3 linked regions of the Homo sapiens genome follow. The protein of the gene in region 3 purifies or fractionates together with the protein of the main gene of each other region. This does not show direct contact. Each region holds a gene or a part of one and is shown on either strand. Other genes may lie near its edges.

Region 1 (3,660 bases), on a different chromosome or scaffold from region 3:
GACATTTCCAGCAACCCAGTTCACTCAGAAGGGTAACACATACCATTCTGGAAGCCTGTCTGGCAATACGGTATACAGTCCATCCATTGGAGACACTTTCAAGCTGCTGCTTAATTACTGCCTTACTTTCCACAGACAATGCCTTCTGACTTGCAACAAAAATCACAGTAGCCAAACTCACCTAACATTGGGCAAGAAGAAAACCAAGAAAATCATTTAATTTTATTCAGTGTCATTGATAACCTACCCCAAAGGGAGGAAAACTAATTAGAGCCCACTGCAAAAGAACAAAATTTGTTTTCCAATGACATTTATTTAATTTTTTATTTTGAAGTCATTAATTTATTCCATTCACTCAGGGCACTCTTTATAACAGCAAAGAAGTAGAAGCAATACCCATAATATGAATAAATTATATAACATAATCAAACAATGAGATACGTAAATAAAATGGATAAACTAGCGACAGACTTACCAACATAGATGACAAGCAAAATACGCAAAAATATGCAAAATGCAAAAGATTACAAGTAGTATGATAAAGTTTACATAAAATTAAAAATATGCAAAATACTGCATATTACTTAGGGATATACACTTTGGTAGTAAAAGAATAACAGGCATGAGAATGATAAATACCAAATTCAGGATAGTGGTTACCTGAGAGAAGGGAGGAGATGCTATCAGCAAGGTAAACAGGGGGCTTCAACTAAACTGTTAATACCTTTTTCTTAAGCTAGATAATGAATGCAAGAGTTTTCACTGTATTATTCCTCAGATTTTTTGAATATTATGTTTCATAATTTAAGACAATCTTAAGGTAGTACTCACAAAAAAGATATCAGGACCGTTAGTTCAAAATGCCACTTCAATAAAAAATAAACTTAGCTAACTGCCTCTTAATATTTCAAAGCTGATTCATATAAAGATCCATACATTTGGTCATCAAGGTAACCTTTTCTGGCAGCAAATGATGGGATGGGGTCAATCTTTTACACAATTCCCTCTGGAGGATTAAACATAAAACAGGCTTGAATAAATTATTTCATTATATTTTTTCCCACATTCTAAATTAAGATGAACAGAACAATATGGAATGGCAACCTTACAACTTTCATTTAATTTACAATTATTTAGAATGTAGCCTACTCTCAGTCCTGCAGAACTTTTCAACTAAACATTTTATAGCTTCCACAGCTTCTGTTTCTTTCTAAGCATGTACCTTTCCCAACCTCAAGGGTCTACAGAAGCCTAAACTGGATCCTAAACAGCTAAAGAGGTCCTGGAATGGAAAACATAAATTTGGGCTAATTTATGGTCATTATTATCATTAGATTTTTAACTTCTATTTTCTAAAGTACAAAACAGGGTTTAGTTCATTATTTACTCTGTATAAGAAAGATAAAAATTTCATTTTCATTCTGTCCTTTGCAATAAAAAAAAACATGAGATTGAAGGCTTTGGCTATACTAGGCTGATTTGACAGGGTTTCGGAAGAAAGCAGTTTTAGAGGTGAACAAAACACGGCTTTCTAAATCAAAAGTGAAAAAAGTAAAAAGCTCATAAAGCCAATTCTATTTTGACATCAGCACACTCTTTGGTCTTAGGTAATGAATTTAACCTATTGTTTGTTCTGTTTTTTAAGTAAAGTCAAATAGTAATGTTGACTTAAAAGTAATTCCCACTAGACCAGATCCTAGTCATTCAAAGGAGATTCAAAATGGGCTTTTTACCAGAAGTTCTTGTTGCTTGTCTGTGGCTGATCGTCCAATCACCTTGTACAGCTCCATGAGGTCACCAAGCATCCCATCACCCAGCACCGGCAGTTGCATGGCAATGGCTGCCAGGCAATGGCACATCAAAATCCGGGCAGCGTCTTGAGCACTGTGCAATTGAGTCAACAAGGTCTCAACTACTGACTGGCTAAGATGGGGCCTGCCCTTGGCCAACTTCACCATACAGTTTAGAGCAATCTGCACGCCAAAAAGAAAATGAACTAGTTACATTTTGAAGATACAGATGAAGCTTTAAGGAAAAGAGCTTTGTACAGGTTACTGGGGAAACTCAAGGGTGAGGTTTCTTGTAGGCATAACATTTTACTTCATAAGAAATATGAGGTACTGAATCTCACATTAGGGTTTGTGAAGTGCACTACGTTTAAAATAACAAATTAGGACTGCACGTCAACCACTCATTTCAATCTAAGACTATTAAAATACTTTTAAGAAAGATGGAAATCATAAGGAATAATGCTGAAGAGGCAAATATAGGCCAAATGTCACCATCACTGTATTATCATTACTTTTCAGGAACTGCTTCTGAAGTGTGGCTTGTAAACTATGCCAGCATCTCCCAGAATGAAAATAAAAATATAGATTCCTGAATTAACATACGTGTGTGTGTGTGTTGAGGCTACTGAGGTTTCACAGTTTTAAAAAGACGGCTTAGATGACTCTAAGTACACTGAAGTGGGAAAGAGGTTCCCAATTTTCTCTTATTTCTCAACTGAAATCTAAAAACCAATTTGGCTACAGAATTTCTCTTACCAAGGCCTTCTTAAAGGCATCACTAATATCCAGCCAAAAAACTAGAAACCTAGAAATATTCCCACTTTTACATAGCTAACAGATTCTTTTGTCAAGCCTCCAATATCCACTGTTGGCACTTTTCCATTCTCTCTACCACATCATAAATCTCTTCCTAATTCCAATTTCTTGAAAAGATGGGCCCTTCAATCCATCCTTCACAATGCAGCCATGTAGCCATCAGTGGGGTGTCAGGCACACACATAACTTTAGAGTCTGATAAATGCAAGGGCTGAAGCTCAGCTTGCCCCTTATTAGCTAGGTGGCTTTGAACAAGGTACTTCTCTCTCTCGGCCTTAAGTTTCTGATGTGTATAAGAGGAGAACACATTTCATTATAGGGTTATTGAAGGACTGAAACAAATGTATATATAAGTCTTCAACAAAGATTGGCACATAATAGACATTCAAATAACAATAATAATTACGACAAAGGTTACCATTACTTTAAAATTATATTATCTCCTCATTACCTATAGAATCAAAGCCATAATACCATGTTATTTGATATCCTCTATGACTGAACTACTTTTCCAAATCTCAAATTATTTCACCCAGCCACAGTGGGCTAGTCACCATTCTTCCACCACAACAGGTACATTCTTACTTTCAAGTCTTTTATAACAGCAGTCATTGGGCTCAAACAATCTTTCCTCATTACTGTAATTCGATTCCATCTTTCACAACTCAACTCATATGACATTTATTTAAAGTCTTCCCTAATACCCTTGGTTAAAGTTAATCACTCCCGACTCTGACCTCTCATTAGAACTGCACTTTTTTTGTGAAATATCAGAGAATGTATTGTGTTCCGCTTGGTATTATAGTCCCCTATATAAACATCAGTAGCCTATTCTAGATGGGAAGCTCCTCTATTACAGGAACCTTTCTTGGCCATCTATGTATGTCCCACTGTGCTGAATCCAGCATTTTACTGACACCCACAATTGTTGGAAAAAAGATTTGCTTTTAAAAAAAGTCTTAAATGTACTGTGGTTCCAAGGGGATTCTGAGGATCCCCCTCAGAATGTGTTGCCAAACACATGTTGTCTACTTCCCTTCTCTACTTCTTATTA
Region 2 (3,660 bases), on a different chromosome or scaffold from region 3:
GGCCCTAGTTTGCTGGTTTTGGCTGGTTCCCAGTTCTTCCAAAAGCAGGTATTCCAGCTGCTTCTGGCAGTCCAGAGATCCAGCACCACCTCGGAGACTACTGGAAATGCAGAATCTCATGCCCCACTCCAGGTAACTGAATCAGAATCTCCACAGGAACAAGATCCTCAGATGATCTGCACACACTTTAAGGTTTGAAAAGCACTGGTCTAGACGATGAAGGGCCAATGGCAGGGCCACCCACTGTCTGAATGTTGGCCTTCCTGAGGCTGATCGCCAGAGTAATGGGACCTCCTGATTGAATGCCTGTCTTGGCCGCACTGTTCCACCCTGCAACCACAACCAGAGATGAGCTTTCTAAAGCCCAGTCTGATCATGCTTAAAACTCTAGCACAAGTCTAAGAGCAGCAGGAACAGCTTCCACAGGCCTTGCCCACCTCATCACCCACCAGCCATCACCTTTCACTCTACGCTCCAGCCATGGGAAACGGCCTGTGATCCCTGGAAAGCAGCAGATACCTAGGATTACACTTTTATTAATCAAATGTCCCCAGAATATTAATCTCTTTCAAACAGTATCAGAATGAGTGCATAAAAAAATTACAACAGGTAAATGACTCCGGGGAAAGGGTCTAGGGTAGAAGGATAACTTTTTTCTTTTCTTTCTCTTTTTTTCCATCTGCCTGTATTAATTTTGCAATTAAATAAAGCACTCCCCCTAGGAGAAAGCTAGGCAGGATCAGCCACTGGAGATACATCTAGCTATTTTACTGCTACTATGTTAAAAAGGATATAAGACGTCAGAGTGCTCATATGCCTTTGAAAGTAGTCAATAATAATTGTGGAAGCCTACTGAATAATTCATGTAATTTCAACAGAAAATTATCATACAAAAGTCACATCCCTCACAGTTCCTTAAACATATGATTAAAAACATCTTTTTTCTCTTAACATGTAAACATGTTAGTTTTTCAAAATCTTAAATTCTGAACTGTGACATTCTAAGTTTAAACGTCAAAATCTATAGTACTAAATGAAGTCTTTAAATAGTTTGGCTTACTGATATGATGATGCCCGGCTACTGGAGCCTACTCTTTAATTCAACTAAAACTTACAGAGAACCCGTTGAAGGCAATGTGCTGGGTGTGTGCTGTACAGGTGCTTAATTTATGCTTTTTCCAAGCCAATATTTCACTAACCTAGCACCACATTCTACTCCAATATGTATTTTTTATCCACATAAATCTGCGTGCTGCAACTGTACTTTTCAAAATCATAATTTAAGTTTTAACTTATAAAATTACATGACCACAAACCACATGAACAAAGTAATACCTTATTTTTAACATCAATTACTTAAATAAAGGCTGCCCCAAATTTCCCTACCTGTATGAAATGATACTTGCCTTGCAAACCTTAAACTTTTTGTCTGTTCCCAATTAGGCTTTACTTGAACCCTAAAAACAAATTAATTATAAATGTTTCTCCAGACACACTGCAGAGCAGGAGTGACCTTAGCCTAACAGGTTATCGCTACATGATTTGAAGTGGGTAAAGAAAATTAAAGACAGGAGTTCTGAGAAAACTTATATTTAGATGCTTACATTAAAATTCATTTTACATCTGTTCTTTTCCACTCTTACATGGGACACTTAGATGTAAGACCTTCAATTCATTTGCTAAAATGACTCAGATAGAACTTCCATCTTTAAAATATAGTTGCTACTGAGTTTTTAAAAGGGCAAAGAGAAAAATACTTGATAAGCTAAATCTTAAAAAGAAAGGGCACAGTAAGGAAAAAAAAAAGTAACGTCTATGATAGTCATAGCCAAAGTTAATTAGACCTCAACTAACACTGGATATTGATTTCCAGTCCGTAAGCTGAATGCAATTCTCTCTTTCACGCCCTACAAAACCTAAGAGTCAAACCGAAGAGTGAATAGCTAGGTTTTAAGGTGTAGACACTTGATTTCATTTACTCTTGGAATATTTTATGTCTTTAAAACTAAATTGGACAATAAATTCTCACATTTCATATTTTGGATGTTTTTTAAAGAAATAAAATATTAACATACTTGTTTGGCAGATTATGGTTTTTACAAGTAGATTTAAAACCAAGGCAAATACAAAAACATATGAAAAGATGCTTGATATCACTAATCATTAGGGAAATGCAAATCAATACCAGAATTAGATACCACATCAAACCCATTAAGATGGCTACTATTAAAAAAAATAAACAGCAAGTGTTGGCAAGGATGTGGAGAAATTGGAACCCTTGTGCACAGTTTGTAGGCACATAAAGTGGTATAGCTAGTGTGGAAAACAGTATGGCAGTAAAAAATCAAAAACAGAATTACCATGTGATCCAGCAATTCCACTTCTGTGTATATATGCAAAAAATAAAATAAAAGCAGAGTCTCAAAAGAGATATTTGTACACTATGTTCACAGCAGCATTACTCACAATAGCTAAAACAGTGGAAGCAACCCAAGCGTCCATGGATGAATGAATGGGTAAACAAAATGTGGTCTATATGTACTACAGAATATTATCAACCTTAAAAGGAAGAAAATCCTGATACATGCCACAACTTGGATGAACCTTTAAGACATTATGCTAAGTAAAATACATCAATCACAAAATGACAAATACTGTATGATTCCACTTACATGAGGCACTTAGGAGAGTTAAAATCACAGAGACAGAAAGTAGAATGGTGGCTGTCAGGGGCTGGAAAGAGGTCGGAATGGGGAATCATCGTTTAATGGGTATAGAGTTTCAGTTTTATAAGATGCAAAGAATTATGGACACGGATGGTGGTGATAGTTACACAACATTATGAATGTGTTTAATTCCACTGAACTGTGTTCTTAAAAATGGTTAAGATGGTAAAATTTATGTTCTATGTATTTTACCACAATAAAATGAAATTGATAGGGAAAAGATGAGGCAAGTACATTTGTAAGGAAAACAGAAAGCTTGGACCAATTCTTATATATAAAGCAAATAATATTTCATGTATAATCTTAATCTCAGATGGTAGGTAAAGACCACTGTAAAACTAACCAGTACCCTTGAGTGTCACAGGCACATTTCATTTCCAAAGCTTATGAGATTGTAAGTAACCAGAACCACTTGACAAGATACCTGAATAAATGAAGCGAAGGATGTCTGATAAACAAGAACAGAAGAGGGCGTCTTTAACAATGACTCGTAATGGTGGGTTGCCTGAAGATTCATGGCTAGCACCTGGAAATGCAGTATCTCTGTTTATAGCAAAAAGATCCTGGGTAGTTCGGATGATACTGGAATCCTGAATGTCAGTGGGACTCTTCACATTGAAAAGCAGCATGAAAACATGGCTTACAGCGCAGAGAACGATCTTGTGGGCCTCTACAACTTTCTTTAAATTGGGGTTGTAAAATACCACGTCCACACACTGGCAGCAGAACAGCAAGTTATTTAAGTCAGAGTTATAATGTGACGCTTCAGCCTTTAAGACAGGCATTTTTTCTGTTTTGAAAAAGAAAATAAAAATAATAAACTCCTTTCAGGTTTACAGACCCAACAATTTCATGTTTACTTTAAATATAATTGTATAATATTTTAAAATATTATTAGGTTAAAGCATAAGAAACAGCCAATATTTAACCATTT
Region 3 (2,472 bases):
TACCATTCAATTTCAGATAATTCCTACCAACAACCTTATGGGGAAAACGAGTACCCTCTAGTGAGATTCCTCCGCCAACCAATTTACATGGAAGTGAGAGTCCTAAACAGGGATGACCCCAACATCAAGCTGGTCTTAGATGACTGCTGGGCGACGTCCACCATGGATCCAGACTCTTTCCCCCAGTGGAACGTTGTCGTGGATGGGTAGGTACTCCCTGTACTATCAGGTTACCCAGCTAATCCATCAAAACTTGCCAGTAATGGGAATAAACCCTCTTGGGCTTTAGAGCAGCATTCAGTCATGTGAGATCCAGATTTAGTCCTTGTTTTCTAATTGGGACTCTTCTGCCTTCTGTTTTTTTTTTTTTTGTTTTGAGATGGGGTCTCATTCTGTCACCCAGGTTGGGGTGCTGCGGCATGATCTTAGCTCACTGTAGCCCCTGCCTCCTGGGTTCAAGCAATTCTCCTACCTCAGCCTCCTGGGTAGCTGAGATTACAGGGGCACACCACCAAGCCCAGCTAATTTTTGCTATCTTAGTAGAGACAGGGTTTTGCCATGTTGGCCAGGCTGGTCTCGAACTCCTGACTTCAGGTGATCCACCTACCTTGGCCTCCCAAAGTACTGGGATTACAGGTGTGAACCACCACACTTGGCCACATGCTGCCTTCCAATCACCTCTTGAATCTTAAGGAATGAGTTCCAAAGCCCCAGAAAGTCTGACTCTACTATGGTGTTGATCATCTGGAAAGACTGGTCTCTAGCCTCTATCCATCTGAACACCTACCATATGCCAGGCACAGTGCTATGTATTCCACATCCACTAGTTGTACTAGTCTTCGTCTTTCATGAAGAAACCCCAGCTTGCTGCCTAAATAACCAGCCCAAAACAATACTTAAACAATGGAGCTTGTATTAGAATATCCATCTGACTCTAGAATCTGAGCACTGATGCTCTGAGGTTGCAGCCACACACTTGTACACATAGGTGTTCAACCTTACAGCTCTCCTGCCGTGTCCTGTCCTACAACTGGATCTCACCCATTCTTATGGAATAGTGTGTACTTGGCTAAAACTGCACCTTTGCTTTCTTGAAGCTGTGGTAGCTCAGTTACTAAGCCTTCTGTTTTGTTTTTGAGACGAGGTCTCACTCTTGTCCCCCAGGCTGGAGTGCAATGGCACAATCTCAGCTCACTGCAACCTCCGCCTCCCAGATTCAAGCGATTCACCTGCCTTAGCCTCCCAAGTAGCTGGGACTACAGGTGCCTGCCACCATGCCCAGCTAATTTTTATATCTTTAGTAGAAACGGGGTTTCACCATGTTGGCCAGGCTGGTCTTAGACTCCTGACCTCAGGTGATCTGCCCACCTCAGCCTCCCACAGTTCTGGGATTACAGGTGTGAGCTACTGCACCTGGCCAAGAAACCAGTGTCTTCTGAAATGATATAATTTGTACTTCTCATGTAGTTGGCAAACAGGTACTGCTAAAATAGTTAAAATATAACTAGTCTATACAACTTATGATTTCATAGGTATTATAGGTCAGGTAAGAAATGCTGAGTAAAACAAAGGTGCTGGTAGAAGGTAAATATGGCAATAGTTCTGAAGATATTACGTATGACTAAATCTGGGCAGACATTGAATTTGACTCCAAGATGCATATGACTGACATCCCTCCCTGGTGCATACCTCCTAGCTGTGCATATGACCTGGACAACTACCAGACCACCTTCCATCCAGTCGGCTCCTCTGTGACCCATCCTGATCACTATCAGAGGTTTGACATGAAGGCTTTTGCCTTTGTATCAGAAGCCCACGTGCTCTCTAGCCTGGTAAGTGATTCAGAAGTCACCAGGGACAGGTTAAATGTTAGTGCATCGATTCCATGTAACTCTCTTCTGTCTCCAGGTCTACTTCCACTGCAGTGCCTTAATCTGTAATCGACTCTCCCCTGACTCCCCACTGTGTTCTGTGACCTGCCCTGTGTCCTCTAGGCACAGGCGAGGTAAAAACTTCAAATTCCTGTTTCTGTGAGTCTAATTCAAAGCAAGTATCAACTTTTTAGAATAGAAGATCTTAAGGACTGGTATAACTCATACTTTATTTACTGCCCAGAGCTCTTGTTGGCCCAGTCAAAACTTGGTCCAGTCTACCTTACTCATGTGACAGGTCTAAGATGAACAGTTTCTTGTCTAGTTCTATAGACGATGAGTTCTTTAAGAATCTATCCTTTTTTTTTTTTTTTTTTTTTTTTTTGAGACAGTTTTGCTCTTGTTGCCCAGGCTGGAGTAAGATGGTGTGATCTTGGCTCATTCCACCTCCAGGGTTCAAGGGAAATGATTCTCCTGCCTGAGCCTCCCAAGTAGCTGGGATTATAGGAACCCCCCCAACATACCCAGCTAACTTTTATATCTTTAGTAGAGACAGGGTTTCACCATGTTGGCCAGGCCAGGCTGGTCTCAATCTCCTGAC

The links.
Region 1: the proteins of ZP2 (region 3) and INTS7 purify together in Homo sapiens (affinity purification with mass spectrometry; one large-scale study listed by BioGRID and IntAct). This does not show direct contact.
Region 2: the proteins of ZP2 (region 3) and RHOBTB3 purify together in Homo sapiens (affinity purification with mass spectrometry; one large-scale study listed by BioGRID and IntAct). This does not show direct contact.

What each region holds. Positions count from the first base shown.
Region 1 is NC_000001.11:211,976,539-211,980,198, forward strand, and holds part of INTS7 (integrator complex subunit 7), read right to left. Parts: intron 1,974-3,660; coding exon 1,734-1,973; intron 1,007-1,733; coding exon of another isoform or gene 908-1,006; exon of another isoform or gene 294-907; intron 182-293; coding exon 44-181; intron 1-43. UniProt on the Homo sapiens protein: Component of the integrator complex, a multiprotein complex that terminates RNA polymerase II (Pol II) transcription in the promoter-proximal region of genes.
Region 2 is NC_000005.10:95,755,252-95,758,911, reverse strand, and holds part of RHOBTB3 (rho-related BTB domain-containing protein 3), read right to left. Parts: intron 3,517-3,660; coding exon 3,151-3,516; intron 1-3,150. UniProt on the Homo sapiens protein: Rab9-regulated ATPase required for endosome to Golgi transport. Involved in transport vesicle docking at the Golgi complex, possibly by participating in release M6PRBP1/TIP47 from vesicles to permit their efficient docking and fusion at the Golgi.
Region 3 is NC_000016.10:21,199,103-21,201,574, reverse strand, and holds part of ZP2 (zona pellucida sperm-binding protein 2 isoform 1 preproprotein), read left to right. Parts: intron 1-16; coding exon 17-206; intron 207-1,696; coding exon 1,697-1,832; intron 1,833-1,908; coding exon 1,909-2,005; intron 2,006-2,472. UniProt on the Homo sapiens protein: Component of the zona pellucida, an extracellular matrix surrounding oocytes which mediates sperm binding, induction of the acrosome reaction and prevents post-fertilization polyspermy.